Linked DNA regions of Homo sapiens. The protein of the gene in region 5 purifies or fractionates together with the protein of the main gene of each other region. This does not show direct contact. Each region holds a gene or a part of one and is shown on either strand. Other genes may lie near its edges.

Evidence for each region.
Region 1: the proteins of SULT1A1 (region 5) and USP34 fractionate together in Homo sapiens (co-fractionation; one large-scale study listed by BioGRID). This does not show direct contact.
Region 2: the proteins of SULT1A1 (region 5) and TPM4 fractionate together in Homo sapiens (co-fractionation; one large-scale study listed by BioGRID). This does not show direct contact.
Region 3: the proteins of SULT1A1 (region 5) and STMN2 fractionate together in Homo sapiens (co-fractionation; one large-scale study listed by BioGRID). This does not show direct contact.
Region 4: the proteins of SULT1A1 (region 5) and THADA fractionate together in Homo sapiens (co-fractionation; one large-scale study listed by BioGRID). This does not show direct contact.
Region 6: the proteins of SULT1A1 (region 5) and AUH fractionate together in Homo sapiens (co-fractionation; one large-scale study listed by BioGRID). This does not show direct contact.
Region 7: the proteins of SULT1A1 (region 5) and ZFYVE19 fractionate together in Homo sapiens (co-fractionation; one large-scale study listed by BioGRID). This does not show direct contact.

The regions. Positions count from the first base shown.
Region 1 is NC_000002.12:61,211,963-61,216,517, forward strand, and holds part of USP34 (ubiquitin carboxyl-terminal hydrolase 34), read right to left. Parts: intron 2,733-4,555; coding exon 2,098-2,732; intron 1-2,097. UniProt on the Homo sapiens protein: Ubiquitin hydrolase that can remove conjugated ubiquitin from AXIN1 and AXIN2, thereby acting as a regulator of Wnt signaling pathway.
Region 2 is NC_000019.10:16,095,940-16,100,494, reverse strand, and holds part of TPM4 (tropomyosin alpha-4 chain), read right to left. Parts: exon of another isoform or gene 3,751-4,555; intron 1-3,750. UniProt on the Homo sapiens protein: Binds to actin filaments in muscle and non-muscle cells. Plays a central role, in association with the troponin complex, in the calcium dependent regulation of vertebrate striated muscle contraction.
Region 3 is NC_000008.11:79,616,899-79,621,453, reverse strand, and holds part of STMN2 (stathmin-2), read right to left. Parts: intron 513-4,555; exon of another isoform or gene 492-512; intron 323-491; exon of another isoform or gene 250-322; intron 1-249. UniProt on the Homo sapiens protein: Regulator of microtubule stability. When phosphorylated by MAPK8, stabilizes microtubules and consequently controls neurite length in cortical neurons.
Region 4 is NC_000002.12:43,571,416-43,575,970, reverse strand, and holds part of THADA (tRNA (32-2'-O)-methyltransferase regulator THADA), read left to right. Parts: intron 1-943; coding exon 944-1,635; intron 1,636-2,978; coding exon 2,979-3,157; intron 3,158-4,108; coding exon 4,109-4,264; intron 4,265-4,555. UniProt on the Homo sapiens protein: Together with methyltransferase FTSJ1, methylates the 2'-O-ribose of nucleotides at position 32 of the anticodon loop of substrate tRNAs.
Region 5 is NC_000016.10:28,606,570-28,611,924, forward strand, and holds the start of SULT1A1 (sulfotransferase 1A1), read right to left. Parts: upstream 3,476-5,355; 5' UTR 3,362-3,475; exon of another isoform or gene 2,291-3,361; 5' UTR 2,287-2,290; coding exon 2,139-2,286; intron 2,035-2,138; coding exon 1,909-2,034; intron 1,820-1,908; coding exon 1,722-1,819; intron 509-1,721; coding exon 382-508; intron 287-381; coding exon 192-286; intron 1-191. UniProt on the Homo sapiens protein: Sulfotransferase that utilizes 3'-phospho-5'-adenylyl sulfate (PAPS) as sulfonate donor to catalyze the sulfate conjugation of a wide variety of acceptor molecules bearing a hydroxyl or an amine group.
Region 6 is NC_000009.12:91,212,936-91,216,788, forward strand, and holds the end of AUH (methylglutaconyl-CoA hydratase, mitochondrial isoform 1 precursor), read right to left. Parts: intron 3,172-3,853; coding exon 3,124-3,171; intron 1,491-3,123; coding exon 1,413-1,490; 3' UTR 888-1,412; downstream 1-887. UniProt on the Homo sapiens protein: Catalyzes the fifth step in the leucine degradation pathway, the reversible hydration of 3-methylglutaconyl-CoA (3-MG-CoA) to 3-hydroxy-3-methylglutaryl-CoA (HMG-CoA). Can catalyze the reverse reaction but at a much lower rate in vitro.
Region 7 is NC_000015.10:40,812,375-40,816,177, reverse strand, and holds the end of ZFYVE19 (abscission/NoCut checkpoint regulator), read right to left. Parts: intron 3,480-3,803; coding exon 3,276-3,479; intron 2,841-3,275; coding exon 2,761-2,840; intron 2,466-2,760; coding exon 2,367-2,465; intron 2,236-2,366; coding exon 2,108-2,235; intron 2,031-2,107; coding exon 1,952-2,030; 3' UTR 1,094-1,951; downstream 1-1,093. Other genes in the region: PPP1R14D (protein phosphatase 1 regulatory subunit 14D), read left to right, coding at 1-8, 184-216, 417-531. UniProt on the Homo sapiens protein: Key regulator of abscission step in cytokinesis: part of the cytokinesis checkpoint, a process required to delay abscission to prevent both premature resolution of intercellular chromosome bridges and accumulation of DNA damage.

The DNA.
Region 1 (4,555 bases), on a different chromosome or scaffold from region 5:
ACCCTATAGCATTTTAGAAGGTCAGTTTCTCATTTCTACGTTCATTAATCAACTCTTAAAATTATACAAATAAGCTAGATTATACTTCCATTCAGAAAGTTATAAAATCAGTAACAAATTCTATTTAAAAAATTTTGGCTGGGCGCAGTGGCTGATGCCTAGCACTTTGGGAGGCAGAGGCGGGCAGATTGCCTGAACTCAGGAGTTCGAGACCAGCCAGGGCAACATGATGAAACTCTGTCTCTACTAAAATACAAATAATAACAATAATAATAAACACTAAAAGAACTCAACAAATCTTAAAATACAAGTTTAGAAAGAGTAAAAACTGTAAGTGAATACAATTCATTTTTAGTCTTATTACTGCTTAAAGCACTACTTTTGTAACTTCAAATGTAAACCCAGAGGCATGCCACACCATCTCCTATCCACTTTTTCTTTAATTAATGAGAAATCATTACTTTGTCACAAAGATTTTAAATGCCTAAATAACCCTTAAATTAATAGTGTATATGAGGTAAACCTTTGTTCCAACATTTAAAATGCTTTTCTAGAATGATGCTCAGTTCAATTTCCTGATGAATAAAAAGTAAAAACAAATATTTTAGTAAAATCACTAGCTGTGATTTTATAGACTCATATGCACATGTCAGGAGAGGACTGCTCTTCTAACACATACTTGTCAATGAACTGAAACCCCCAGCTTCTTATTTTTCAAAGCAAAAAACTGACTTAAGTACCATTTTCATGAAAATTTCTAATAGATAAGGACATTCTACAATAAAAGACATTACATTTCACTGATGTCAAGGGCAATAAATAACATGGAGGGATAAATTCTAACTCATCTAGTACTTGTCAAAGTATATTTAATTCTGGACATCACATCTAGTAACTAGATCAAATATTATTTATGTGAATATGATAGAGACAAATTTACTGAAACTTAATAAATCCTATCCCGACCCCTTTGAAGTCAGAAAGATTGATATTTTGTATTCTTATGGCATTGGTTTTCAATTTCTTGGTACTTGTACACTCACTCTCTTTCCTGCATTGTAGGGATTCTGATTTTTTCTTTTGAGACAGAGTCTTGCTTTGTTGCCCAGGGTGCAGTACAATGTCTCAATGCAGCCTCAACCTCCTGGGCTCAAGCGATCCTCCCACCTCAGCCTCCCAAGCAGCTGCGACTATAGGTGCACACCACTACTCCCAGCTAATTTTGTATTTTTTGTAGAGATGGAGTTTTGCCATGTTGCCCAGGCTGGTCTTGAACTGCTGGGCTCGAGTGATCCGCCTCTGCCTCCAAAGTGCTGAAATTACAGGTGTGAGCCACTATGCCGGCCTGGGATTCTAATTTTCTCTGACTAGAAATTAGGTTATTCTTCCCAGGTGTGAGATTCTATACAACTCATTACACCATCTAGAAAAAAAAAGACCGTCTATAAAGGACGGTCTGTCTTTAAAGTACAGTTTACAACAGAGAATAAGAGGCAACAGTGAAAAGTTATTAACCAGGTTTGACAGCTTTACATCGAGGGGAGGAAACTTAATATAAAACCTACAAGTAAGTGTGCAGAGTAAAAGGGACCCAATTTAGACTGCATATATATGTATCTCGATTGATCTCTTAAGCATTTCATTTGTTTGGATGCAGCTTGAGAAAAAATACTGCGGAATACTACTAGTTTTAGATATAAAATTGTCTAGCTCACAGTTTACCACAGCATGTAGATTTTGCTAAGTATCTGATTTTTAAATAGCAAAGTACTCAATTCCTTAAAACTGTACCATGAAGCTGGCTTTTTTCATTAGGCACACATGAAGAATACATTTACAAAACCACAAATTAAAAAACAGGTAAGTTTTACTGGATATGCAACTTTAACTTCACCCTAAGAAAAGTTATCTACACAGTTATCAATTTTATAACAACACAGCATTTTATATATGTATTTAAGAAAACAAATACACATTAAGTTCTTAAGAAAGAATGGTGAGACTATTCTATATTCTGCCACCACTTCCCACCAGGGGAAAAACAGGTATTTCCAATCTATTTGAGGATACAGATAAAAGAGTATCAATTTTACTCACTCCAGGGTATTGGCTGGCATGTGGTGTAAGATTCTTAAAGGCCCACTGGATGTTCTGGTGAGAAGCCAGTTGTCGTGTGAATGCAGGAGACTGCTCACAGCAGAGCCTCAGAATGCCATAGTACGCTGGCAGCATCCCACGGTTAAAAAGCACCACATCCTGATCATCATGGTCAGCAAGGATGTAATTGAAGGCAATGTTCTTGGTTACCACTGGGTTCTGAACAATAAGGCGGATATTCTCTGGACAGTCAGCACAGACATTGTACCAAAATGAAAGCAAAGCCTGTTTATTGTGATTTGTAGCTATTGCTGGCTCAGAAAGTTTAGGCTGGAAAAGGTTCCACAAATCCATGAAATATGTGGAAAACATCAGCTTCTCAGTTTTGGAAATTAAACAGTAAGTCATAAAGCTAAAATAGGGCACTAGCTTTGTAGTGCCATGAACAGCAGCATCAACATAAAGTTTGGCTCTTGAGAGCAAACCAAGGAGCACGTTGTAGACCTGATGTAGGACTACTGTTGTGTCTGGACTGAGTGGAAGGTCACGGGTTGGGATGTGCAAAGACCTTGTTGACCGGAACATCTGACGGAATGAATTGCTTGGTATAAGGGACACCAGAAGATAAGCTGCAGCTATAAAATGTAAAACAAAACTGTCAGATCCTTGTAAGATATAAAATAGACTGAACAGCAGTCATTAATCACAAAGCCACTGTTCCCTTTAATAATTAAAATGAATAAAAAGGGACATGAACATCTCTTTTAGTATCTTTCTGCTTTCCCCTTGGCCCCACAAAAAGATCCCAAGAGGTGATAAAAATAGATACCTTCTATTCTGCCATTGTTATTTTTGAAGTGGCAATAATTTTTAAACCACTTTTCTTTAGCTTGCCTAAGATGCAGAATTTTCCCACTTTATCTTTTATTTCTTCTCAGGAAGTAGTATGATTTAACAGAGGGAACCCAGCATTTGCAGTCAGAAGACCTACCAAAAGGTACCTGAGGAGGTCAAATCATTCAATGTTCTACAGTCTTAGTTTTCTTCTTAATTGAAAAATAATGATAATTTACTTTGTAATAACATACAGATATGGTAAAATATACTTGTTATAAAGAAAGAAATAGATATACATAAAAGTTCAATATATAAGATTACATATATGCTAATTATAGAACATTAACTTTGGAAAATCTTTAAAAGTCTTCTAAGGCTAACCTTACACCAAAGGAAAGAACTGGGTGTTAAATTGTAACCAGATAATATATATTTAAGTTATAAAGAAAGAATGAGATATACATAAAAGTCCTATTTGATTACATATATGCTAATTACAGAACATTAACTTTGGAAAATCTTTAGAAGTCTTTTAAGGCTAAACTTACACCCAAGGAAAGAACTTGGTGTTAAACTTATTAAGCCTATGTTATAATGCTGAGGAGTTAGTGACTTATTAGTTGCGCTAACCTGTAAAAGCAGTTACTATCAACAAAGCATTGACCTAGGTGCTGTATAAACTTCTCATTTAATCCTCACAATGACCCTGGATGGAGGTAACAGTGCTCTGGAAAATCTGAATCTTGGAGAAGCAAAGACCAAGGTCACACAGATAAAGAGGTGGAGGCTAGATTTTGCCTTGAGAAACAATGATGATGATAATGATAATGGTAAAACAATAATAGTAATAACTATAATAAGAATTGTGAGCCTTTACCAAATGTATACTATTTGACGTCATAACTTTATGTGGCAGGCATTGCATTTATTATCCCCACTTTCACTCAGGCTTACAACAATGGGACTATCTCAGCTTACACAGCTAGTGGCCAGAGCTGGGATTCAAATCCAGCCAATCAGATTCACAGGCTAATAATGCTCCTAACATTCACTATGGAACCTCCTCAAGACTCTCTAATGTCTGAGTTTGGGTTCTTTTCAGGACAACCATTATTTGTCTCCCCCTATTCTAACTATAACTTGATAATTTCCATTGTATTGTCAAAGCAAACAAAGTTAGGGTTTCTAAAATTAATTTTAGTTTATTTTACAAATTTATTTCCAAATTAAACTTTGTGCACAATACTCCATTTTCTAGATATTTCTTTACCTATATACTAGTCTGCTTAGTCAGAATTTTTAAGGCTCAGTTTGTTATGTGTTTCAAATATAAAAACCTGGCATGTAGGTATCATCCTGATCAATTTTTGCATAAAACTTCAATCAAGAAAAGTAATTTACGATTTAAAAAAGCCATTTGGCGGCTGGGTGCGGTGGCTCATGCCTGTAATCCCAGCATTTTGGGAGGCCAAGGCGGGCGGATCACGAGGTCAGGAGCTCGAGATCATCCTGGCTAATATGGTGAAACCCCATCTCTACTAAAAATACAAAAAATTAGCCAGGCGTGGTGGTGAGCGCCTGTAGTCCCAGCTACTCGGGAGGCTGAGGCAGGAGAATGGTG
Region 2 (4,555 bases), on a different chromosome or scaffold from region 5:
ACTAAGGAACAAGCACCAAATTTGGGAGTCACAGTTGTAAGATAAAATGCAGGGCGCCCAGTTAAATTGAATTTCAGATAAACCACAAATAATATTTTAGTGTAAGTATATCCCAAATGTTGCATGAGATGTACTTATGCAAGAGATATACTTATGATTAAAAAATTATTCATTGCTTATCTGAAACTCAGATTTAAGTTGGTGTCCTGTATTTTTCCTTGTGAACTCTGGTAACCCTTGAGTCAGAATACCTGAACTTAAGCTCCAGTTGTATCACTTAAGTAAGCATCTAACCTTCCTAGGTCTGTTTTCCCCGTCTGTCAAATGGGGGTAACGATATCAATGCGTGGTGTGGGGGTTATGATGAGGAATAAAGGAGAAATACTTCAGAACCTATGACGTGCTGCTACATGAAGATTTCAGTCCTAGATATGTGTGACTTAATATAAATTTCCACCCAAGTGCTAGTTAATTAGCCCCTGAGCCTTTGATAGTTAAATCTAAAATCCTGTAACCCATCTTTCCTTCGGAGCTTCTGGGAATGGCTGTTTAAATTATACACATAATTGTGTAACTGTCTATGAATCCAGGAGAACGGAGACAAACCCCAGGTAAATGCGAAATTTAAGCCATTCTACAGGCATGTTATTAAGTAACTGAGCTGATGAAACAATTTAAATTAAAAAAGAAAGAGAGAGAGAAAAAAGACGCCATTTAGAGCTATGCGTGACAGAGCACGAGAGAGAACTTAGTTTGCAGTAAGTGATGGCTGATAAGGGACAAGGCCAAGACTCATTAAAATGCTGGGGGAAAGCAAAATGCCTCATAAAATGTGATATCATCAGCCTGGAAATTTACAGAAAGAAAAAAATGACTGCAGAAGATGGCAGCCTTTCTTATTTATTTATTTTTAAACAGGGTCTTGCTCTGTTGCCCAGGCTGGAGTGCAGTGGCATGATCATAGCTCACTGCAGCCTTGACCTCCTGGGCTCAAGTGATCCTTCTACCTCAGCCTCCCAAGTAGCTGGGACTACAAGTGCGTGCCACTACACCCAGCCAATTCTTGTATTTTTAGTAGAGATGGGGTTTCGCCATGTTGCCCAAGCTGGTCTCATGCAATCCACCCACCTCGGCCTCCCAAAGTGCTGGGATTACTGGCATGAGACACCATGGATCCTTGATGTAAGGAGTTCGAGACCAGCCTGGCCAACATGGCGAAACCCCATCTCTACTTAAAAATACAAAAAATTAGCCGGGTGTGGTGGCGCACACCTGTAATCCCAGCTACACAGGAGGCTGAGGCAGGAGAATCACTTGAACCCGGGAGGCGGACACTGCAGTGAGCCGAGATTGCGTCACTGCCCTCCAGCCTGGGTGACAGAGTGGGACTCCATCACACACACACACACACACACACACACACAGAGTCAAGTGACTATGACCTGGGAGGATTCTATCAGACAGATCAGTGACCTGGGCCTATCCAGTCTGGGTGAATAGATGTTAACTGAATGCTGACTATGTTGGACGAGCCAGTTTCTCCATTATCTCATTTAATCCTCATAACAGAGATATCACCTTTATTTTGCAGAAAACCTAAGCAGCTTGTTCACGTTGGCATGGTTAAAGTAGTAGAGCTAGGATTTTAAATCCTGGTCTCTTTATTTATTATTTTATTAAAAAATTTTTTAAAAATAAAATATTATTATGAATAATTTTAGAGATGGGGTCTTGCCATATTGCCCAGATTGGTCTCAAACTCCTGAGCTCAAGTGATCCGCCTGCCTTGGCCTCCCAAAGTGCTGGGATTACAAGTGTGAGCCACTGCGCCAGGCCTTAAACCCTGGTCTCTTGACTACAAATCCTGACTTCGCTTCATCTTGTCACTCAGATGCTTTAGCATCTATTTTGTTATTAGGTCTGAGATAAAATGACTTTCCCTGAAAGTGTTAACTGCCCTTGAGAATCACGACAAGGCTCACAGACTATCAACAGATAGTGTAGACCTCCATAGTGCTAATCTCTTTTCTTTTCTTTTCTTTTTTTTTGAGGCGGAGTCTCACTCTGTCGCCCAGGCTGGAGTACAAAGGTTCGACCTTGGCTCACAGCAAGCTCCGCCTCCCAGGTTCAAGTGATTGATTTTCCCACCTCAGCCTCCCCAGTAGCTGGGATTACAGGCCCCCATGACCATGCCCGGCTAATTTTTGCATTTTTAGTAGAGACAGAGTTTCACCATGTTGACCAGGTTGGTCCTGAACTTCTGACCTCAAGTGACCTGCCTGCCTTGGCCTCCCAAAGTGTTGGGATTACAGGCGTGAGCCACCGTGCCCGGCCATAGCACTAATCTCTGAAATTCCACTTATGTGCTTAGTTAGGTAGAATAACTGGATAGACAGGCTGCATAGTTACTTCAAAGGGTGGAGTCCAGAAATGCCTGGAGAAATTCCAGGGACAAACACACAGACTCCAAACAAAAACCAGCCCCCTACACAGTCTGTAATCTTTCCAAGGGCATATATATGGCAATGTGTGAGGGGAATGGTTTTTGCAGAAGTTCAGGATGGACGGCAGTTAGGAGCAGGGAGAGGCTGAGGGTGGAAAGGTGGAGGTGGTTTAGGGGAGGTGCATTTTGGAGGAATGGATGAATAGAGAGAGTAATGGGGACAGAGCTTCCCACCTGGACAAAAAAATAGGATGAGGAATAACAATGGATACCGAAAATTCAGGATCTAGTTGGAGATTTTCATGCCATTTCCAGGTTCAAGGGGTAGTCTGGAAGATGTGGCTTGAACATCTAAATGTCAATTATCTGTGATAATTTGAGGTGGTAGTGGTGGTAGGATGCAGGGGAGAACCAGATGCACTATTTGAAATTTTGGGACAAATTGGTATGTTTTTGATCATTAGAAAAGCATAGCTTGGGCCAGGTGCAGTGGCTCACACCTGTAATCCCAGCACTTTGGGAGGCCGAGGCGGGTGGATCACCTGAGGTCAGGGGTTCAAAACCAGCCTGGCCAACATGGTGAAACCCTGTCTCTACTAAAAATACAAAATTAGCCAGGCATGGTGGCGCATGCCTGTAGTCCCAGCTACTTGGGAGGCTGAGGCAGGAGAATTGCTTGAACCCGTGAGGCAGAGGTTGCAGTGAGCAGAGATGGCGCCACTGCACTCCAGCGTGGGCAACAAGAGCGAAACTCCGTCTCAAAAAGAAAGAAGAAAAAAAAAAGCAAAGCATAGCCTGGGCCGGGCAAAGTGGCTCACGCCTGTAATCCCAGCATTTTTGGAAGCTGAGGTGGGCGGATCAGTTGAGGCCAGGAGTTTCAGACCAGCCTAGCTAACATGGTGAAACCCCATCTCTACTGAAAGTACAAAAATTAGCTGAGTGTGGTGGTCCGCGACTGTAATCCCAGCTACTCGGGAGGCTGAGGCATGAGAATCACTTGAACCCAGGAGGCGGAGGTTGCAGTGAGCCAAGATGGCGCCACTGCACTCCAGCCCGGGCAACAGAGTGAGACCCTGTCTTGAAAAAAAAAAAAAAAAAAAAAAAAAAAAAAAAAAGAGTGACCTTGTTTTCTCCATATTCCTCATGTAGGAAAAAGCATGACCTTTTATTACCCACAGGTCAACCTTAAGAGCTATTCTAAACTAAAGCAAGGTTCCTGTTATAACTAACTGAAATATGAATGGAGATTGATGTTAGCAGTCTCAGGCAATTCTGGAATTCGGGAAAAGAATTCTAAATTCACGTCTTCTGACGTCACAGCACTTTCCCTGTTCATGGAGGCCCGTTCACTCCTTGTACAGTCAGTTTTCTAAGGGCAGGGCGTGGAGGTGAACTTCCTCCCAGGACTGGGAGCTGGATGAACAGTGAAGAGTAAAGCCACGGGAAGCCCCAGTCACCACACTCACAGTGTAACACAGAGAAAAGACACAAGAAAAGGAGGAAATGGAGATCAAAATGTCACTGCCGCTGTTTGAATCTGTAGCTCAAGCCCCATTCAAGGGGAGCCTCATTTTTGACACAGGCTTGCTGGTTTTTCCAAATCCCTGTTGACTCTTAAGCTGCCTAAGCGGTTTACAAGGATGAGCCTCCATTCACAACAATTTCTATTTAAGGAAAAACCATTGGGGATGGGCGCGGTGGCTCATGCCTGTAATTGCAGCACCCTGGGAGGGTGAGGTGGGCAGACTGCCTGAGCCCAGCAGTTCAAGACCAGCCTGGGCAACATAGTGAAACCCTCCCGCTTCTACAAAAAGTACAAAAATGGCCAGGCGTGATGGCTCAAGCCTGTAATCCCTGCACTTTGGGAGGCCAAGGCAGGCGGATCACAAGGTCAGGAGTTTGAGACCAGCCTGACCAACATGGTGAAACCCTGTCTCTACTAAAAATCCAAAAGAAAAATTAGCCAGGTGTGGTGGTGTATGCCTGTAATCTCAGCTACTTGGGAGGCTGAGGCAGGAGAATTGCTTGAACCCGGGAGGCGGAGGTTGCAGTGAGCCGAGATTGCACCACTGCACTCCAGCCTGGGCGACATAGTGAGACTCCGCCTCAAAA
Region 3 (4,555 bases), on a different chromosome or scaffold from region 5:
TTCACTTTTCATTACATAGAAAGTATTTTTCAAAAAGCAAATGACGCAGTTTTTGATTGCGCTCCTTGTTCCCTCTTTACTCATTCTAAATGCATGCACATGGGTATTTATATCTAATGACAATTTAAAAACTCAACTTCTTGCATTTATATACTACTTGACAGACACTAATCACTTTCACGTTTTTTTCCTTGAGTCTGAAAAAGACCCTCTGATATGGACAAGGCAGTTCACATGGCTATTTTACAGATGCTGAATTAGAGGAACAAACAGGAAAATTGACCTGACCAAGGTGCGTCAGCAAGAGTAAAGACTGAAACTCAGAATCCCTTCTGGGCTCTTCCTTCCATGCAGCACCAGCAGCACTGGTGGAGAAGGGCAGAGCTGATGGGGACTTAGACTCTGACCTCTTGACGCCTTGTTGCAGAGCTCCACAGAGGACGTAACTCACATGCTGTCCTGGCCTGCTGCTTGGGGACCCTACAGGTCACTGCTGTTTTAGGTCTACTCCAAGTGTGGTTCTGAATCAGCCTCATCAGCACCACCTGGGAGCTTGTTAGAAATGCAAATCCATGGGACCTGCTTCAGACCTAATAGAGTGAGAACCTCTGGGGGTGGAGGCTAGCTCCTCAAACGCTGCTGATTCTCAGTAAAATTTGGGAAGCATTTTAATTAAAGAATTCTCTGGCCAGATTGGTTGATGGACTCATTAAATATTTAAATTTTTCAGCCTTTTGGTGGATCTTGGTACTTCCTAGTTGATGTTACTAGTGTATCATTATGTACTATCTTGTAATATTGTAGGGCAGTTTAACAAAATTGTTAAGATGGTGAAATTGTGAGATGGTGACTTCCATTTATAGTTATAAATTACCATTATTACTATTGAACTTTCTGACATGTACAGGATCTTTTTTTCTGCAAAAGACTAAATCCACCAAGGGTGAGGAACATTTTTATTTTTGTTCTCATAATACCTGGCACAGGCTTCAGAACAAAGTTGGTGCTCCAATCTATTTTACTTTAGTTAGTGACACTGACTATCAATGACTTTAAACTGAAGACAAATATGCCTCGTGTATGACTATTCTCACTGTGCATGTTTTATTACAGGACAGTGGAGGGAGTGCTAAACCTTATTTTGCATGAATGTGTATATATGTATGAAATAGGCACATACATGATATATAACATATTTATATATTACATATAAATATTTTGATAGGTAAATAATATACACAACTTTATTATATGTAATATATATATTATATGTTATAATATATATATAATATATATTAGACCTGTGTTCCGAGTCTGCCTCTGAGGCTTGCCACTGAATAAATTATTTGAGCTTAAATTTACCAATCTTTAAATAAGACAACTTGTATAGTATGCCCATCTCAGAGGGATTATATGAAGATTCAAAAGGATGAAGCAGGTGAATGTTTTCTAAAAATGACAAGGTCCCATATAGATAGATCATGCGATTTAATTTTTCTTTTGAACATTTTTTAGTCTTCTATGCTTGCCTGCTCCTTTTAAAAAACTATATAAGAAAAAAATCATCAGAAATATAATAAAAAGATAATTTTTAAAGTGACAAGAGTGCAGGATCATGTAATATGTCATTAAAAGACTAGAACAACTTTGGTAATTTTTCATGTGTTTGAATATTTATTATGAGAAGGGTGCTAATTGGAATTTCTCAGATAAAGCTGTAAGACTTAAATAATAACAATAGATATTTTTGTTGGAAATAAAAAGTAACTCTGCATTAATAAAAATAATTATGTTCTGAAGCAGAGTTCCCAGGGAGGCTGCAATAAGTCTATCCTAAAAGTGCCTGAGATGATTAATGTTCTTCCCGAGAGTCTGGAAATGATAACAGTACCATCTTGATGGGATTTTCTGGTCTCAGTTTTGTAACAGTCAATATATTATAAGTTGGGGTTGTTTCGTGTGAGTTAGGTTGCTCCTCACTAGGAAGCCCAAACTGGGAAACTATTATTATAATAGGTTTACTGTGAGCAGCTTTGTTAATGGAAGTTAAACTTTATGGCTGCATTTCATAAGGAAAAAAAACTTCCAAAGACAGAGTAGAATGCTAATAAAAATTTAATTTACACTTTAACATGCTCTCTTGTAAAAGTATTTGTGGGACTAGGTTTAGATAAATTTCACTCAATTCTCTTTATCCTGATATAAAGACATACAACTAAAAGATGGACAGATTTATTATCCTGATGATCTATTGTTATATTGGGTACTTGTACTAATGGTTAATGTGCGAACTCCAACATCCAAAATACAATTATTCCAGAAGAATAACTGCTAAATGGGCACTCTTGCAGGCGTTGCTTTACAATCTTTGTAAAAAAAAAAAAATCATTCAGTCCTAGGCAATATTTTTGCCCTATAAAAATAAATTATTTTAAATGTGCTCTATGAGAACTGTAATTATCTATTTCTTGCCATAAAATAAATTTTGAAACCCATAACTTTCCAGAGTATTAAATATTTTACTCTGGAGGTCAACAACAAGTGAGAACAAACTTAAAATATTTTTGTTATGGTTTTATAGTATAATATGTGGCTCCTACTCTAAGTACAATTCCTAAAGAAGCTATATTTCCACATGACCAGCAAAATGATGGCTGAAATGCATTAATTAACCTTTACACTCATATAAAAGTGTTTTGTGAGAACAAATGTACACAAATGTTATCTTTAATCATGACTAATAAAAATGGATATTATAAACACAAGCTTTACTACTGCAAATGTCTCCTTGACAAATGACAGGGCCTGATTCCTTTATTAAAAGATAATTAAAAATGTTTCACAAGGGATTCAAAACCTTCCTACAGTTCTCTCCTGCCTGCCTGCCTGCTTTGATGGTAATATGAAGAGAATCTTGAAATAACATCTAATAGTTATATTAAATGTGAATGTGTAAATTTATTTTATTCAACAAAATGTTAAAACTAAATATCTCTGGCCTATGGAAGTAGTTAAGGAGGCATTTTGAAATGTGCTAACCATGATGGGACTGAGGAGATTAAGTCAATGTTATTTCTGGAACTGGTCATCAGAGTGTGTTCCCACCAGAAATCGATGCTGTGCTGAGCCTGCAGAACGCCATGTGTCTCATACGTTACAACCCACACGGCCTCATAGCTCTCTTTCTCCCAAAGCCTAAATCATGGCAATTATTTGAATAAGCCCCAGGTAAGCTATTAAAACTAGGCATCAATTTGGAAGTATTTTCTCTTCAAGGTGAGTCTGTGATCAGAAAGGAGAAGACCATCTCTGGTCTGTTTAAATAAAATGGTGATATCACAGGTGTGACCTCTGCAATGGGAGCTCACCTCTAACATGGAACAGATATGAGACTAGCAGCAATCGGTGAAAGATGGATTCCGAAGCCAGATGGCCTGGGCCCAAATTCTGGATCTGACTAACTGTGTGACCTTGAGTAAGATACTTCAACTTTCTGTGCCTCAGTTTCCATATCTGTAATAGAACCTACTTAGGATTATTAAGTGATTAACACAGTTAATATGTGGAAAGTTCTTAGAACAATGCCTTGCATGTTATATGTGCTATACAAGGGTTAAATCAATCAATAAAAGTTACTTCCCATAGAGAATCTGGAATTTATGAATACACCAGAAAAACAGTTGAAAGAAAGCACCATTGCGGGAAAATGTTTGAGTAAAGAAATAGGAAGACTTATTGGCTCGAGGCCCTCAAGTTTAGATTTTTGTCATCTCCAAATGAGGTTATACAGAGAGCCCTGCCCGACTGCCAGAATTAAACATTTAAAACATGAATTACTTTTGTAATGCTGTCTTAAGTGTGTCTTCCTTTCCTTCAATGTACAAGAAATTGCAAAAATGGAAAGTTTCCCAGCTTCTGAGAGACCCTGAAATGAACTGTTAACAACAACTGAATGGCTAACTTTGAGACTTAGTCCAACTTTGTGTTGAGTAACAGTATATTCTGCAAACCCTGAAGCTAGTTTTATTTGGGATCATGTTTTTAGTGCCCTATTTGGGAAATGTTATATTTTTTAATTTGAGATATTTCGTGTATTGTATCATTTTTGCAGCATAATATTTCCAGAAAGGTGGTAATGGCTGCATGGTCAGCCAGTCACTGCATGGGAGACCTGACTATGTCTTTGATGCTATTCCTTGAAGATCCTCTTTCTGATCTGTAGGTTGACTTCCTTAGAAAGTTAGAATTGAATAATGAAGATCCTTTATTGGCTTAGATAAGCAGAAGAAAACACTCTTTTCAAATATACAGTCATACTCAATAAATTCTTAAGAATTTTCTCACATGGTATTCAGGAAGAAATACTCTTAGAATAATTTGGTAAATAATAAATATAAGATATATTGAGACAGCAATCTTTTGTTTTAATTTCTTCAGTATTGCTATTCATAAATGATAGTAAGCTTGCATTATTGATTTATCATCCTTGTCAACTGTGCCACAAGCCGCATTCACATTCATTTCTTCTTAGGCAGGCTGTCTGTCTCTCTCTCTC
Region 4 (4,555 bases), on a different chromosome or scaffold from region 5:
AACATTTCTGAAATGAAGTTTTAACATCTTAAAAGTTAATTCAAACAACTTTAGAATATTTTTATCACAGAGAAGCCCCATTCCCCCAACCATCTCCAACACTTGGCTTTCCTTATCTTTTAAATTACATGTGTAGGCCGGGCATGGTGGCTCAAGCCTGTAATCCCAGGCTTGCAGATCTCAGGCAGGTGGATCACTTGAGGTCAGGAGTTCAAGACCAGCCTGGTCAACATGGTGAAACCCTGTCTCTACTAAAAATACAAAAAATTATCTAGGCATGGGGGCATGCGCCTGTAATCCCAGCTACTGAGGCGGCTGAGGCAGGAGAATCGCTTGAACCTGGGAGGCAGGGGTTGCAGTGAGCCGAGATCGCACCACTGCACTCCAGCCTGGGTGACAGCAAGACCCTGTCTCAAATAAATAAATAAATAAATAACTTGTGTAATCATCACAGTCAAGGTAGTGAATATTTCCATCATCCCCCAAATTTCCCTATGTCCCTTCCTGGACTATTATTATTTTTGAGACAAAGTCTCGCTTTGTCACCCAGGCTGGAGTGTAGTGGCATGAGCACAGCTCATTGCAGTCTCACTCCTGAGCTCAAGCAATCCTCCCACCTCAGCTTCCCAAGTAGCTGGGACTGTAGGTGTGTGTCACCACACCCAGCTAAATTTTTAAATTTTTTATAGAGATGGGGTTTCACTATATTGCCTAGGCTGATCTTGAACTGCTTTCTGGATTATTTTTTACAAGGTAAAAAGAATCATATACAAATTTGAGATCTGTTTTGGCTTTACTTGTAGTTTTTTGTTCTTGTAAATTTAATAATTGAAATTTGTGGTCATTCTGTGTATTTAATATTTTTAAAGTCTAAATTGTTATAAAATGAAATTTCTTTTACTAATCAGTTTACAATAATGGCTCATGGCTCATTTTTCTTCAGGATTAAAGAGCCAACGCTGGAAATGTTTCTGTCTAGAATCTTAGCATCCTGGACTAATTCAGCCATACAAGTCCTTGAATCAAGTTCCCCGAGCCTAACGGACAGCCTGAATGGGAATTCAAGTATAGTTGGGAGACTTTTGGAATATGTCTATACCCATTGGGAACATCCATTGGATGCTCTGAGACACCAAACCAAAATCATGTTCAAAAACCTTCTCCAAATGCACCGGCTCACTGTGGAAGGTGCAGATTTCGTCCCTGATCCTTTCTTTGTGGAATTGACTGAGAGTCTTTTACGATTGGAATGGCATATTAAAGGAAAGTACACGTGCCTTGGTTGTTTGGTAGAGTGCATAGGAGTTGAACATATTTTGGCTATAGATAAAACTATTCCATCTCAAATCTTAGAGGTGATGGGAGACCAGTCATTGGTACCTTATGCAAGTGACCTCTTGGAAACCATGTTTAGAAATCATAAGAGTCATTTGAAATCCCAGACTGCTGAGAGTTCTTGGATTGACCAGTGGCATGAGACTTGGGTTTCTCCTCTCCTTTTTATATTGTGTGAAGGAAACTTGGATCAAAAATCTTACGTGATTGATTATTACTTGCCAAAATTATTAAGTTACAGCCCTGAAAGCTTACAGTACATGGTAAAGATTCTTCAGACTTCTATTGATGCTAAAACTGGTAAGAAAAATGCATTTTTGTTTTAGTAGTTTCTAATTATGATGCTTAAATGTAGGTAGCTATGCAGATACTAATCATATTCAAATTTAAATATCACTTCTATAAATAGTAAAGGAAGAGATTAATGATAGATGTTTCAGTTTGAAACGAATGTTCCTATATATAGCTGAATGGAGTTTTTTGGCTGAAGTCATTTCTACAAGCTAAAGAATAATTCCACTTAAAATGATAAACTTTCCTGTATTACAAGGTTTTAATTCATTTTTTCAAGTTCTGAATTTATTTTATTGTATCACTGAAATAAAAGTTTGTGTGTCTTATATAATGTGCTTATTCAAGTCATTGAGACAATAATTAAAAATTGTGTTAGGCAAGGTTAAAGACAGGTAACTTGGCAGTAGCAAGTTTTTTTCTCTGGGGAAGTGACAAAATTCAGAGGCATGATCTCAAGAAATAGCCATCTATAGTTATTTAGAATAGGGGTAAACATCCCATTGAAACTCACAAACCCTACAGGAATCACTGCATTCAAGCATAATTCAGGATGTGTAAAGTGATGATCATGACACATCATATAAATCTTAAAATTATTACATTCTGTTTAACAAAGCAAGAATGTAGTATCGTACAGCATAATTTTAAGAAATATTTTCAACTAAAATTGTTAAAAACGTTCAGTACTTCAAAGAGTAACCATGAGGTAGCAGGAAAATTTGATTCCTGTATGCAAAAATAAGCCATTATTTGTAATTTTTGACAACACTTGTTCTTGAGTTTTTGAAAAGCCATCTGAAATTCAGGATTCAAGAATCTGTTCTGAAGTAAGGTTGTCTTTATTTTTATATCAAGCTGCCCTGTCTTCTTGGTAATGGCTGACGTCCTAGCCTCTGAAACCAGCAGGCTCTTTGTGTTCCTTTTTTAATCTTTACTAGTGAGAAACAGCCACTCTAAAATATGCAGAGAGGTTCAGTGTTTACTTTTAGAGAAGTAATAGTCTGTAGCCACTGATGTGCTTATTTCTCCACCTGATTTTATTTCCTGATTTGCTGCCTGATTCCCTTTCTAGGTGTTAGGGAAAAAGCAAAAATGTTAGCAGGTAAATAATGATTTGTTTATGTTAACGATAAGAGAATTATGCTTACTTGAAATGATTGACAAAAGGGCAAATCATATTAAATAATGATTATTTTAGAATAGGAACTTTAATTTGTGTTAGAAATGAGTTTAAAATGTGATTTTTATTTATTGAAATAAAATGTTAATTGGAAACATGAAAATTAGCAGCTGATAATTATAGTAGTCATTGCATAATACAGTAATGGTCTTTGTTATTGTGCTTTCAGGACAAGAGCAATCTTTCCCATCCTTAGGGTCTTGTAATAGCAGGGGGGCTCTGGGAGCTTTGATGGCATGTCTGCGAATAGCTAGAGCTCATGGACATCTTCAGTCTGCAACTGATACCTGGGAGAACCTCGTGTCTGATGCAAGAATAAAGCAAGGCTTAATTCATCAGCATTGCCAAGTAAGTAAAGAAAATTACCTGGATTTGTACATGCAGTAGATCCCTTTCATGTAGCAGTTCAATATAGAGGCCCCTACATTGTATCCTGAACTGTTTTAGGGAGTTCATAAAGAGAATGAGTAGAAACCCTAGTCTCCCAACTAAACTTTCAGTAGGCCCTTTCTTCAAGCTACTGAAAGTTTAGTTGAGGATGTAAGAAAACTTACATAAAACAACTGGAAACTCTTAGAACTGACAATACAGATACAAGCATGCCATCATGTGCCCTTAAATACATAAGGACTCGCTTGGAAGGCTCAGAAGAGACTGATCAGAGCAGGTGGTGCTTGATTAGGAAAGTGATAGATATGATTAGAAAAGAGGAAGCCTTGGAGCAGCATACAAAATGGAGGGACCCAAATGAGCAAGGTCTGGAGGATGATTAAGAACATTGCTTATCAGGGGTGGAGTGTTTTGGACATTTTTTGGAAAGGCCTAATGCTAGGCTAAAGACTTAGTTGGTTCCCAGGCACCAGCTGGTTTTACTAAGCTAAACCAAAGCTACTCTGTTTTCAGCAAGGAGTTACATTAGTGGAAACGTGAGTTTCCAGAGTGGGAGCAGAAAGAAACCAGGAAACCAGTTAGAAGTGTCTGGCAGTAATTTAAGAGTGAGGTGATGGGGTAAAAGGGGTCACTGGAAAAAAAGAAAAAGGAATGAAGCTGAGCATTACCACGGAATAAAAATCTTTAAGATTGTTGCATTTTATAAATCCCCAATTTACATGTTTAATAAAAGAATTGTATAGGAAATAACCCTAGGATCTTTGAGATTAGGAAACCTTTCTGAGGTACCTATTGGTGAACTGAAGTTTACTTTTTTCCTTTTGTAGCCTATGTAAGTAAGCAATTCAAGTGATTTAGGCTTTGCTTATTTCTTGGAAAATTAACATTTTATTGCTTGATGTTTTTTAGGTAAGGATAGATACATTAGGCTTGCTTTGTGAAAGTAATCGGAGCACAGAAATTGTTTCCATGGAAGAAATGCAGTGGATTCAGTTCTTTATTACATACAATCTTAACAGCCAGTCTCCAGGAGTGCGGCAACAGATCTGTTCTCTTCTTAAAAAGGTAGAATTTCCCATCAGAAGGCATAGGGAAGTGGTGAACTTTGTTTGGGAAATCGTTTTTAAAAAGAGCCCAGATTTTGGGAGCGTGTGGGAATGGTCATGGAATTGGGCTACCACATCTGTTCATGACGGCCGTTCTGTGACCTGTTCTCTCATTCCATAAAGCTTACATTTGGGATTAAAATCCAGAGTGAAAAGCACGCACCCCTCCCCCCACCATTTTTTTTCAGGAGTTCAGAATCAGCCTGGGCAACACAGTCAAACCCCATCTCTACTAAAATACAAAAAAATT
Region 5 (5,355 bases):
GAGATGAGAGCTGTGTGGGGCCCGCTGCCAGGTGGGGCCTTAGTGGGGAGGCCTGGGCCAAGAAGGCAGGATGGGGAATCTGGTCCTGCTGTGGGGGCTGCCCAGGGAGGGGGCTGGGTGGCCTTGGCGGGTCCCTGTGAGGTGCCTGCCCCCAGGAGTCACATGGAGGGAAGCATCGCACGTGGTCTCACCTCCTTCATGTCTTCATAGAAGAGGTAGAGAACAGGGTGGGTGCGGCTCAGCTCCCACCACTCCTGCACGTGCTGGTACCAGGATCCGTAGGACACTGGAGAAGCAGGCAAGGGGTGCCAACACAGGGTTGCTGTGCGTTGTAGCCACCACCCCTTAGCTCCACACTTTCCTTCCTCCCATCAAACCCACCTTCTCCGACCATGAACTTCTCCAGGAAGCTGTCCCAGGTCCCAGGCTCAGGGTGCACCTTGGCCATGTGGTAGAAGTGGTAGTAGGAAACTGCCACATCCTTTGCGTTGCGGGCAACATAGACCACCTGCAGGGGCAGAAGACTCAACCCCAGCACCATCACCACACAGCCTGTCCCAGGCCAGCTCATCTCTTGGATTGGCAAAGGAGGAACCTGAGGCTTAGAGGCTGACTTGTTTGAGATCTCACGGCACCGGTAGGGCCAAGTCAGGAGCTGAACCCTGCTCAGAAGCCAAAGTCCTGCCTGGTCCCTGAGACCATCATATTCTATAGTAATATAATCTGCATCAATGCGTCACACCCCAATCTGGAGCAAGGCATGCTCCACCAGCCGTGATCCCACCGCCACCAAATTTTGTGGGCCTGTGAGGACCCACCCTCTAGCTTTCTTAGGTCTACACTGAAGAGTCTTACGTTCTTGGTCATCAGAGCAAGAGGCAGACAGTCCCCGCCGCAGAAGATGAGACAAGGCTGGAGGAAGTGAGGCGACTTTCCCAGAAGAACAGGACCAAAGCTGGGCTGAGCCAGGGCCTCCTTCCCTGGATTCACATGCCCCACACCTGGACCTTTGCTTTTTCTTTTTATTGTGGGATTTATTTTATTTTATTTTATTTTATTTATTTATTTTTGAGACAGAGAGTCTCAAAAAAAAAAAAAAAAAAAAAAGGACCGTGGTCTTTCTTTTTTTCTGTCGCCCAAGTTGGAGTGCACTGGAGTGATAATAACTCACTGCAACCTTGACCTTCCAGGCTCAAGCAATCCTCCAACCTCAGACTTTCCAGTAGCTGGAACTACAGCGCTATGCCACCATGCCCTGCTGATATTTTGCATTTTTATAGAGATGGAGACTCCCCATGTTTCCCGGGCTGGTCTGTAACTCCTGAGCTCAAGTGATCCACCCAATTTGGCCTCCCAAAGTGCTGGCATTACAGCAGTGAGCCACCACAGGTGCCACAGTTTTATTTTTATTTATATATTTATTTATTTATTTATTTTTGTGAGTTTTGCTCTTGTTGCTCAGGCTGGAATGCAATGGTGGGATCTCTGGCTCACCACAACCTCCTTCTCCCGGGTTCAAGTGATTCTCCTGTCTCAGGCTTCGGAGTAGCTGGGATTACAGGCACCCGCCACCACACCCGGCTAATTTTGTATTTTTAGTAGAGACAAGGTTCTTCTATGTTGCTCAGGGTGCTCTCAAACTCCCAACCTCAGGTGATCTGCCTGCCTCAGCCTCCCAAAGTGCTGGGATTATGGATGTGAAACACTGTGCCCTGCCTCACCTTGACCTTCTGATCCAACAGAGTCTGGGGGAGCAGAGCCAGGGGCAGGTGTGTCTTCAGGAGTCGTGGGGCCGGTGTGTCTTTCAGAGTCTCCATCCCTGAGCAGTGGGTCAGGGAAGGTCTGGTGAGCTGAAGCCCCAGCCCTGTCTTCCTCCACTCCCCTTGCACCCAGGACACACTCACACACCTGAGGGAATCCCTGGGGCTTTGAACTCAAGGAAGGGCACCCGCATGAAGATGGGAGCTCGGTGACACTTCTCCAGGTCACCACCCTGGTAGATCATGTCCAGAATCTGGCTTACCCAGGTAGTGCCTGGAGAGGGAGGGAGATGGGAGGTGAGCAGGCTGAGGGCACGACCTCGCTGGCCAAGGTGGGGACTGCCACCTGGGAGAGGGTGGGTGGCCCTCCTCACTTACCGGACTTGGGGTAGGTGCTGATGAGCAGGTCATCAGGCCGGGCCTGGAAGCTCTGCAGGGGCCCCAGTGCCTCTGCAAAGTACTTGATGAGCGGGACCCCCTTCACGTACTCCAGTGGCGGGCGGGAGGTGTCCTGGATCAGCTCCATGTTCCTGCGTCAGGGGCCAGAGCCAGGCCCGTTCCCTTACCACCATCACAACAGCAAGAAAGTGGAATTCTTGCTTTCAGGGAAGTCACTGAGGCCTAGGGAGGCTGAGTGACTTGCCCGCACTCACAAAGCCACTCAGTGGCGGGGCTGGGGCTGAAAACCAGGTCGGGCTCTAATGCGGTGGTTCCCCAGCCTGGCCTCACCTTTCATTCACCTGCGGAGCTGTTCAAAATCCCAGGGCCTGGGCCATGGTGCAGACCAGTGAAAGCACCCTCGTCGGGCAAGGCCCAGATGTCAGGGTGTGTGAAGGTCTCCAGGAGAGTCCAGCTGCACTGAGGAAGCTCTAGGACCTTCCTGTGCTGTCTCCCTGCCAGCCAGCGCCCTTTGTCTCACCACTTCCTGCTGGGACCCCCAGCCTCCACCCAGTGGAGATGCTCCCCTCCTTGAGCCCCTCAGCCCCTCACATGTGGAAACCGCCCAGGCCAGCCAGGCCTGTGATCCACTTGCCTGGCCACAGTCCATCTGGGCTCCAGGACAAACACGGCCCATTGAGGAACTGAGCTGCTACTAGGGGCCAGAGCTGCTGTGGGAATGAACAAAACTCTGATGACTCAGCAAAAGCACAGGCCTAGGCAGGGTGGCTCCCACCTATAATCCCAGACCCTAGGGAGGCTGAGGCCAGGAGTTGGAGACCAACCTGGTGCAGCATTGCAAGACCCCATCTCTAAAAATCTTTAAAAAAATTCTTAAACATTAACCAGGCAGGATGATGAGGGCCTGTAGTCCTAGCTACTCCAGAGGCTGAGGCAAGAGAATCACTTGAGCCCAGGAATTCAAGGCTGCAGTGGCCAGGATCCCACAGCACTCCAGCCTGGGTGACAGCAAGACCTGGCCTCCCCGGGGAAAAAAACAAACAAACAAGGGAAGGGAGGGGGATTCACGCAGGCCAGGGTTGTCTGAAATGGGATATCCATGGGGAAAGGGCAGGGATGCCAGAGGCCTCAGCTTCTGGAATGTTAGAGCCACAAGCTGAGCAGGGTGAGGGCGCCCTGGGCCGTTCCACTGTGTCACTCACCTGAGCTCTTGGGAACCTGGCCTCGTGCCCTCCTCGCCCGCAGTGGCTGATTGTGGGTGTTGTGTGGGGAATGCAGGGTTGTTCTCTGAGCTGAGGGTTTCCTAGGTCCACTGTGGGAGGGATCTGGAGCCGGGGCTGGACTTAGATTTGCTTCCGGAAGGAAGGGGTGGGGTTGGGGGTGGGGGAGCTTCTCCATTACCCTCCTTAGTGTGCCAGCTGGAGACAAGCTTAAAGTGATCTCCAAAGCCACGACTGAGTTTGCTGTGTAGAAAACAGAAGAATGAAAGGGGAAAGGCCCAATGGTGGGTTTGTTTTTGTAGGTTTTTTTTTTCTGTTTTTTTTTTTTTTTTTTTTTTTTTTCCGAGCTGTCACTGGGCTCCTGACCTGCCCCTGAACTCCACCCTGCCAGGCAGCCAACAGACAAGCTCTCTCTAATTGACCCAGGCAAGAGAGGGGAGGGATTGGAGGAGAAAGCTGGGATAGGCAGGCCCTGGAAAGGTCACCTACCTGCTGGCTCCAGGCCAGTCTTGAAGGTGCCAGGGGTTCTGGCCCAGTGCAGCCCACAGGCCCCCAGCAGCCCATGCACTCCAGGCTCTGACCACAAGGCCAGTCTAGAGGGATGTGTGTGGGCAGAGTGAAGGGGCAGGGGTGGAGCAGAGCATGGATGCATAGAACAAGAAAGAACAAGGACACTGCAGTCCCATTGCCCTGGGAGTCAGCCCCAGCTTCATGGCTCCTGGGGACCTCAGAGAACATTGATAGAAGATCCTAGAAGAACCACAACCCGTGGCAGGTGGTTTTATTTCCCTGGGTTTGAAGGAGGCTCCACAGACAAGAGACCAGAGGAGGCCGAGGTTTGGAAGCCACAGGGCCCCGTGGAAGGGGGGCATCCCCCCATCCTCCTCGTTCTTTATCCTCACTTTAAAGTCCAAGGTCAAGCTGTGCACGAGACAGGTAAACAACCATCTGAGTAAAGGTGAATCTCCCAAGACTTCCAAGAAATGCGTGAGTTCAGAGGCAAGCGGACAGGTGGGAGTGTGGGGGAAGCTGAGGCATGGGAATTCCAGGCAGAGGAGAGGCTTCTCATATGCTAGGGCCATGGACCCCTCCTCCCTCCTCTGTGCCCATGAGGAATCCCCGTGACTGGCAGGTCCTCAGGCTACTAGCTCCACCCCTGCCCTCAGCAACCCTCAGGAGGTTCCCTTGACTAAGACTTTGTATTGCACTCTAGTAACAACCTGTCGGACCCACACGGGGTGACACAGAAAAGAGGCGAGAATGTGAGATTAATAGAGTGGTAGCAAGTGAATACAAAATCCCAGGCAGCAGTTTCACATGAGGAGAAGAAGGAAACTTGAAATAGCTGCATGCGCTAAGGGCCAATAAGTCCCTGAAAAATAGGATGAGGACCAAGCTGGCTACGACCAACCAGACACAACATGGCGCTGTATTTGATGTAGGTTTCACCTAGGATCTCATTGTATGATCAGTAACATATGAAACCGTACACCCACCAGTGCCAAGACGGCTCCAGGAACACCTGTATTTGGGTGTAAATTGTGGCACCACGGTCTTGAGAAATCTTTACCTTTTCCTGGACTCTTCATGAATATACCCCTCTTTAGTTGAAGAAGCCCATAAAGGTCAGCCCCACACCTTGTAGGGCATGAGACACTCTCTTGAGGACCCCCACGTTCCTCTTCTTCAGTGAGTCCCTTTACTCTGCAGGAAATCTGCCTACATTCATGACTTTTGCACTTGTCCTTAAATTGTTTCTGGCTAAGGTGCCAAGAGCCTGGAGAAGGCCTGGCACGGTGGCTCACTCCTGTAATCCCAGCACTTTGGGAGGCCGAGGCAGGCAGACCACCTGAAGTCGGGAGTTTGAGACCAGCCTGACCAACATGGAGAAACCTTGTCTCTACTAAAAATAGAAAATTAGTCAAGCCTGGTGGCACACGCCTGTAATCCCAGCTACTTGGGAGGCTGAGGCAGGA
Region 6 (3,853 bases), on a different chromosome or scaffold from region 5:
AAAAATGTAAGTTTCAGAATTAAAAAAATGAAGCCTACATGCCTTCAAATAGCAATGAAGTCGCCACAATGAGGATGTAAATCCACAGTAAAATGGGTGTTTATCTGATACATGGAAATGTGAAAGGAGGACACCTTAGGGACACAGCTGGGCTGTACCACAGTGAAGCTTGCTGCAGGGGCACTCCCGGGGACGTTGTCTCTGGCATGACCAGACTCAGACCTGACACAAACTAGGAAGGCAGGGTGGTTTGGTAAAATGAATGTAAAGTAGAGCTATCTCAAATTACTTAAAGGCATCAGAATGTTCTCCTTTTTTCCACAGCGAATTCTCCAGTTCCCAATGTCCCACACAACTCCCACCAGTGCCTACTCCCCAGGTGTGGCTACTCAGGCATGCAACCTGGAGGCCGTTTACAGCTTCTTGACCTGGCCTGGGTAGGAAGGCAGGTGTTTGTTAGGACAAAGGGTTGTTAAGTTCACCTCTTTCCCTTACAGAAATTGGAGGCAAATAGCAGAGGGTAGGGAAGCAGAGAACAGTCTCCACTTTAATCCATGACCCCAAGCCATTTCCATGCTCCAATCCTGGCTGCCCCATTTTCTTTCCTCCTTTGTGTGCAAACATCGCCTTTCCTAGGCCAGTCGGCGACCACACCACTTGCTGGGAGGAGGTCCCAGCAAGTCCCACTGCACTAGGTCTCCTGTCCGCTTTGGTTCTTTGGCTTCAGTCTTTGGATTCATTCTTCACCTTCAATACTGTATTACAGGACTGACCATGTAAAGAGGTTGCCTGATAGAAGCAGCAATGAAAGGGTTGTTTCTTCTAAAGTCCAGCATGCAATGATTTAGTCAATTCAAAAAGAATGGGGTAAGAGAAAAATTCCCATGTTTTCTTTTCACTAATTTTATTTATATTAGGTAGTTTTCACTCAGAATATCAATTCATTTTTCAGGTTTAGATATATGTATATGTAGCTGTTCGTATGCATTAATCACTTAGAAACTTTATTTGGTATAACTTCACATTTTTGGTATATAGAAATTTTATTTTCTTAATGCAGCACAGTAGACATACAATCAATATTATTCCCTAGAATGTGCAATATATAAATTATTCACATTAAAAAATTAACAGAAAGCCTCATATGCAGTAAATATTTAAAAATGTATATCTAACTTTGATTCTGTTTCTGACTATACACTACTAGCTTTATAAATCTGAATGAATATGACATTTACACATTTGAATGAAGTACACGGATGGGTCCATTCCAGATGCTTATTACACCGTATGAATAATCTGCTCTTCACTTTGGTCATTAAGGTTCCATGTGCTGAGGCATATAGTGGATCCGAAAGACACTTCCAGGAAGTACATTTATTACATTGGCATCTTAAGAATTTCTGTTCCTTTTATTCTCCTTTATAGCGAGGGGGCCTTTTCTCTTTAAAAGCAAGAAGACCTTCAAGTCTGTCTTTTGTTGGAATGGTCTAAGAAAAACAAAATATTAAATATGTCAAAAATGTTAAAACAACTGTAAAAGTTTATCAAGCACTATCTAAGAAAACTACTTAGAACCACATTCTAAAATTTTGAAATCAGTCACCTGAACAATTCTCCTAATTATGTAACCAAACTCATCCTTCTTACTCCAAGTGGTCCTCTACCCCATTTTGCTCTTCTTTTTCTAGTTTCCTAATAAGGTGGAAGGTTATTATCGATTTAGATATTTTCTCTTTTCTATTATATACATCCAATGCTATTTCTATCTAAGCACTGCTTTCAGTATATCCCACAAACTTTGAGAAGTTGTATTTTCATTTTAATTCAAAATACTTTATAATTCCTCAAGACATCTCTGACATATAACATTATTTAGAAGGATGTTGTTTAATCACCCAATATTTTGGGTTTTTCCAGCAGTCTTTCTTTTATTGATTTCTAGTTTAATTCCATTGTGGTCTGAAGAATACCTTGAATAATTTCTGGTGTTTACATTTAGTAAGTTGTAATTTATGGCCAAATGTGCTTTTAAAATTTTTCTTTGGGCTCTGAGGCTATTTCTAAGACGTTTGTAATTCACTTTCCTCATGGCACGTACTCATCAATGACAGGTGGTGATTTATATATACAAGCTGGGCACAGAGTCACACTCTAGATACTGCTCCTTTAAACGAGTGCTCATGCAGTTTCCAACTCCCAGGAAAGGTAGAACAAAACTTTTTTGCTATTTCAGATGCCCTAAAACAAAGTTCTATCTTTCAGAGAAAGACAAAAAAGGGAAAACATTTTTTTTTTCCTCTCCAGGAAGACCTAATAATTTGTATGCAGTCATCCCTCAGTTATCTGCAGGGGATTGGTTACAGGACCTCCTGCAGATGCCAAAATCTGCAGATGCTCAAGTCCCTTATATATTAATAAAATTGCATATCATATTACCTACGCACATCCTCCTGTATACTTTAAATCATCTCTAGATTATTTATAATACCTAATATAATGTAAATGGCATGTACACAGTTCTTATACTATATTGTTCAGGGAATAATAAGGAAAAAAGTCAGTACATGTTCAGTACAGATGCAACCATCTTTTTTTTTCCTGAATATTTTCAATTTACACTTGGTTGAATCCACAAATGCAAAACTTACAGATGAAAAGGGCCGACTGTGTAAAAAATAAAACTATAATTTCATTAGTGAACTTTCAGTGGTCAGGAGAGACAGATCAGAGGTTCAGGAAAAGCCAAGCAGTCTCACCCCAGGTTGCATGGCAGGCACACGCTCATCACCACTCTCCTCTACCTCTCTACATTGCAGTGGGAGGCCAGGACCAATCCCACAAAAGAAAGCATAAGCCTAGAGAGACAGCTCCTGCACACCCAGGACTGACTCAGTTACTCTAAGAGTTTTCTAGATTATATAGACAAGAGGCATTCCTGTGGAACAGAATCAGTCATAAGAGCTGGTAACAAATAGCAGAAACAACTAATTTCAACCCATTTGTATGATTTTGGAATGGGCGCAAGGGTAATCTTGCTCAGTGAAATTCATTTGAATTATACAGAAGGTAAATATAATTTGTAAGGGTCATCCTCATTGAATTTGTGATTGCATTACATACCTGAGCATAACAAGCTTCTTCTATGGCTAACCCTGTTACTAAATCGACCTGAGAATAAAAACATAATCCATTTCAGCAGAAATAACTTTGCGAAATGTGGTATATTCAACAGAAATTCAAATTGAATAACCTTATCCCCAAAGCACCCAATCCTTTGATATAGTACAGCAGATCAGAGTGTGACCAACATGAGACACAGAACCAGGCTTCCTGGGTTCGTCCTGACTCCCTCACTTGGGAGCTGAGTTACCTTGGGGAAGTTATTTAACCTCTCTGTGCTTCAAAGAGGCATGTCTGAACAAGGGGCTAATTATAATGCTCACCAAATGGGAGTATTGTGAGGATTAAATGAGTTAATCTAGGTGAGGCCTTTATGTCGCGACACACACACACACACACACACACGATGCTTAATACATAGTAAGGGCTATATAAGGTATTTGCTATTGGTATTGTTACCATTATGTAAATATTTAAATAAACCAATCAAATACTTTTGCAAATTTATGAAACTGTATTTACTGTTATACAGTATTGACTGTATAAAGTCAATCTCTTTTTACTGCTATACAGCCCAGGAAGATGCGGAGGTTCCTTAGTCTACCAAGAAGGAAGCACTTTTCTTCAAAATACCCATAAGTTACCCAAAATATAATAACTGCCATGAAAAGTCCAATAAATGGGTATGTGCACCACCCCCTCCTCCCAGGCCTGGGGCCTTCACTCTTTT
Region 7 (3,803 bases), on a different chromosome or scaffold from region 5:
AGCTGGAGGTAGGATGGGGGCTAGAAGCTGGCCTTGGGTCAGTGGGAACCCAGAAACCCAGGTTCTGCCTCCTTTGGTGGAGTGCAGAGAACCAATCCAGAGGGGAGAATTCTTGGGAGATTGGTGGGGACTTGCGGGAAAGTGCTGTGACTTGGGGCCCTGTCTGTGTTCTCTCCTATCTAGGCCATTCTTGGGAACTGCCCCCGCCCCACAGAGGTAAGGGATGTTCTTCTGCTGGTCTGGGGTAAGAGGAGGCCCAATGGGGGAGGTAGCTAATGAGGAGTATTTGAAGGGAAGGCTTGGCTGTGGGTCCTTCTCCCTTCTCTGGGGAGTCAGGGGCAGGGGAAGATTAGGGAGGGCAGGGTGGGGGGTGAATTGTGACCCCAAGCCTGGTCTCACTCCTGTTTCTCCCTCAGGCTTTTATCTCTGAGCTGCTCAGTCAACTCAAGAAACTCCGGAGACTCAGCCGGCCTCAGAAATAAGCCTGAGAGACCATCTTTAGCAGCCTCAGCACTGCCAGGCCTGCCCTGAAACTCCAGATCCTGGCTAAGAGGGAAATAGCTCCTTGGGACACAAACAAGAAATGTGGACAAGGAGGGACATTTGCATACTCCTACTGTCTGTGTGGTCACAGCTAGTTTCTGTCAGCTGGGCTCTCTGGGAGAAAGCTGGCTGTTGTCCAATGCCTTCCTTGGCAGCCAAGTGGATAAAACCTTTAGGAGCCCCAGCTCAATGGAGTGTGGAACATATCTGTGCTGAGGGACAGGGGAGGAGAGAATGAAGTGATACACAGGAAGGCCACAACCTAAGTCACTTGGCTGTGCCCACACACCTCATCCATCCATCCATCCAAAGGACTCAAGAATTCAAAGACGAAAGTCACAGCTCCACTTCAGAGAGATCACAATCTAGCAAGGCCTCGGGGCCAAGCAGACATTATCTGCCTAAGGTACACAGCCTACTGGCATAACCAACAAGAGGGACGCCAATGGCAAAGACTAGTTTCAAATCCCAGAGAGGAAGTAACAGGAAAAACCTAGCTGGATCTGAGAGCCTCAGAAAAGGCTCTTCCAACCAAAAGTGATGCAGGAGGTAGACCTCAGCCCGAGGGCTCTTTATAGTTGGTTCCAGCCAGGGGCAGGAAGAGAAACAGCAGAGGCAATGCAGAGGCATGTAAAGGGTACATGCCGAGAGGTCAGGGGTCCGGTTAGGGCGCATTACTGGAAGAGAGATACTGAGACTGAATGGCAGGCAGGTTGGGACAGGAGCCCTAGGAGCTGGGGTCCTTTGCCAGTAAGGCAGGAAGCAGGGTGTGTGTGCATTGTTCCTGCGTGCATTGTGTGAGTAGTAGAGAGGCTGAGAAATCCAAGATGGTGGGGACTGGTGGCTAAGTGGGGCTGCCCAGAGCTGGAGCACAGTTGAGTTGAATGAATACATGTTTACTTCGTATGAGGCCACCAGGATGGGTAGGGCTGTTCCTGCCTGGAGAAGTTCATAGGATGGCTCAACCTTTTCCCCCATTCCCCACAACTGTGCTTACAGCCTGCTCTGTTCCTGCCACCTCTCACAGGGCCCAGGCTCATAGGGTTGTAGAAATGAGATGCTGGGCCCAATGAATCAACATACTTTATTAGACCCACTAAGTGCCAGGGGAGGGGCCTGTGCCCTAGAGCCAGGTTACAGGGCTCACCCGTAGATTCAGTCTGGTCTCTCCCCATCATGCCTCTCACTTCCAGTCTGGGCTTCTAATAGGAGGGCCCCGACTTCTTCCCTCCCAGTCATTCTCTCGAATGGAGAATCTTTCCTCATTCCAGGGACACCAAGGCTCAGGAAGGGGCCTATCCATCATCAGTAGAGCCAGACAAGCTCTCCCATCGGACGTCCTGTGGCTGGGCCCAGAAATGGGTGCCGCTGCCTGTGGGACTGCCCTTCCGGGAGGACCAGGGTGTCTTCAGTGCTCTTGGCCTGCACGTGGAGGAGAGTAGGCAGATGTCTGGTGCTCTTTAAGCTCAAAGGCATCATGGCCCTCTCTGTGGAACAAAGGGATACAAGTCAGGGATCCAGGCAGCCCTTGAGCTCTCGCACAGAACATTCCACCTGCACCCACCGGAAGCAGCGGGCACAGAAGAGGTCCCCATCGCAGCCAGCGCAGCGTAGGGTGGCATCCTCATTGCAGATGCAGCACCAGGGGAGCTCCTCTTCCTCAGCCTCAGGCCTGGGGTCCACATCCTGGGCCTTCAGGGATCAGAGAGGAATGGAGGAAGTAAGGTACCCAGTGGGGTATGTGAGCTGCTGCAGGAGCAGTCAGCCAGGCAGGAAGCAAGGCTGGGGGGAGCCTGGGGGTCTGCATCTGGGGCTTTTCTCACCTCAGGCTCTGCCCCGCGGGGTTGCGTCCAGGGTCGAGAAGCCTGCTCTGCAGGGATGTTAAAGCCACTTGCCTCATCCAGGGAAGCTTCTTCAGTGAGCTGCGGACAGGGTGAAGATGTACTACTCCCCTGCTTCAGGCCCAGGCCCTCCATCTCCCAGTATTTCTGTGCACTGTGGACTTAGCTTCTCAAACTCATCTTTTTCTTTACTTGTGGCCTGTGGCTGCTGATTCCCTATCTCCAGGGACCAGTGGGCAGGTCTGGGTCTGGGTCACAGGAGGGGGCCCAAAGAGAACAGGAGCTTCACAGTTACTGTCCACCCAGCCCCAGAGTAGAGGTGGGGCAATGAGGCGGAGACGGGACAAGGGGTGGCAGGTGGGTAATCCAGGCCCACCTGCTGCAGGACTCTTTGGATGGCTGTCTCCTCATCCTCGTCGTCATCACTGTCTGGGAGGCGATAGTCCTGGAGGGTCACTTGAAGAGGGAGACATGGGAACAGGGGATGGGGGAGTGAGAGTGAGAGATTTCACATGAGTGGCTGCCCTCCTGCCTCCCAGAACTGGTTCGGTTCCCAGGGGCACTTATTCCAGAGCTGAGAAGCCTCTTCAGCCACCCTGATGACCTGTCCCTGCCTGCCCCAGCCCTGCAGGGCTGGGCCATCACTGAAGCAGGCCTGAGGGCTAGGTTGGGGGCTGGAGCGAAAGCCTCAGCCCCTGAATGGACTGAAGGTCCCCTGCCCTCATGGCTGCCCCTGACTCCTCACCCACTGCTTTGCTCTACCACCTTCCTTGTGGCTCTGGGCTGGGCTCAGTAGATCTCTGGGCGCAAATACCCCCAGCACCTGACTCAGCCCTGCCAGGGAGGCCTTGACCAAGGGATACCAGTGAGCAGCTGCTCCCCAGCCTTCACCTCTCTCGGGGTCCTGTCCCCGCAGCATGGCTAGTCGCTTGGCCAGGGCCAGAATCCGTTCCTGCCTCGTGTTCTCCTCCCGCAACTCAAGTGCTGCCTCAGCCAGCAGTCTGCTCTTCTCCTCCTCCAAGGACCAGTTGGCCTGCCTCTTGGAATTAGTGCTCCCTGGGCCACCCTGGTTGAGATCATTCTGGAGAGAGGCAGCTGGAAGGGGTAATGCCATCAGCAAGGCCGAGACATCCCAGTATCTCTCCTCAGAAGCCAATGAGCCCATTTCTCAACCTTTTCTTTTCTTTTTCTTTAATAATTTTTTCTTTCTTTCTTTCTTTCTTTCTTTCTTTCTTTTTTTTTTTTTTTGAGATGGAGTCTCGCTCTGTCACCCAGGCCGGAGTGCAGTGGTGCAATCTCAGCTCACTGCAACCTCTGCCTCCTGGATTCAAGCGATTCTCCTGCCTCAGCCTCCTGAGTAACTGGGATTACAGGCACGTGACACCATGCCCGGCTAATTTTTGTATTTTTAGTAGAGAC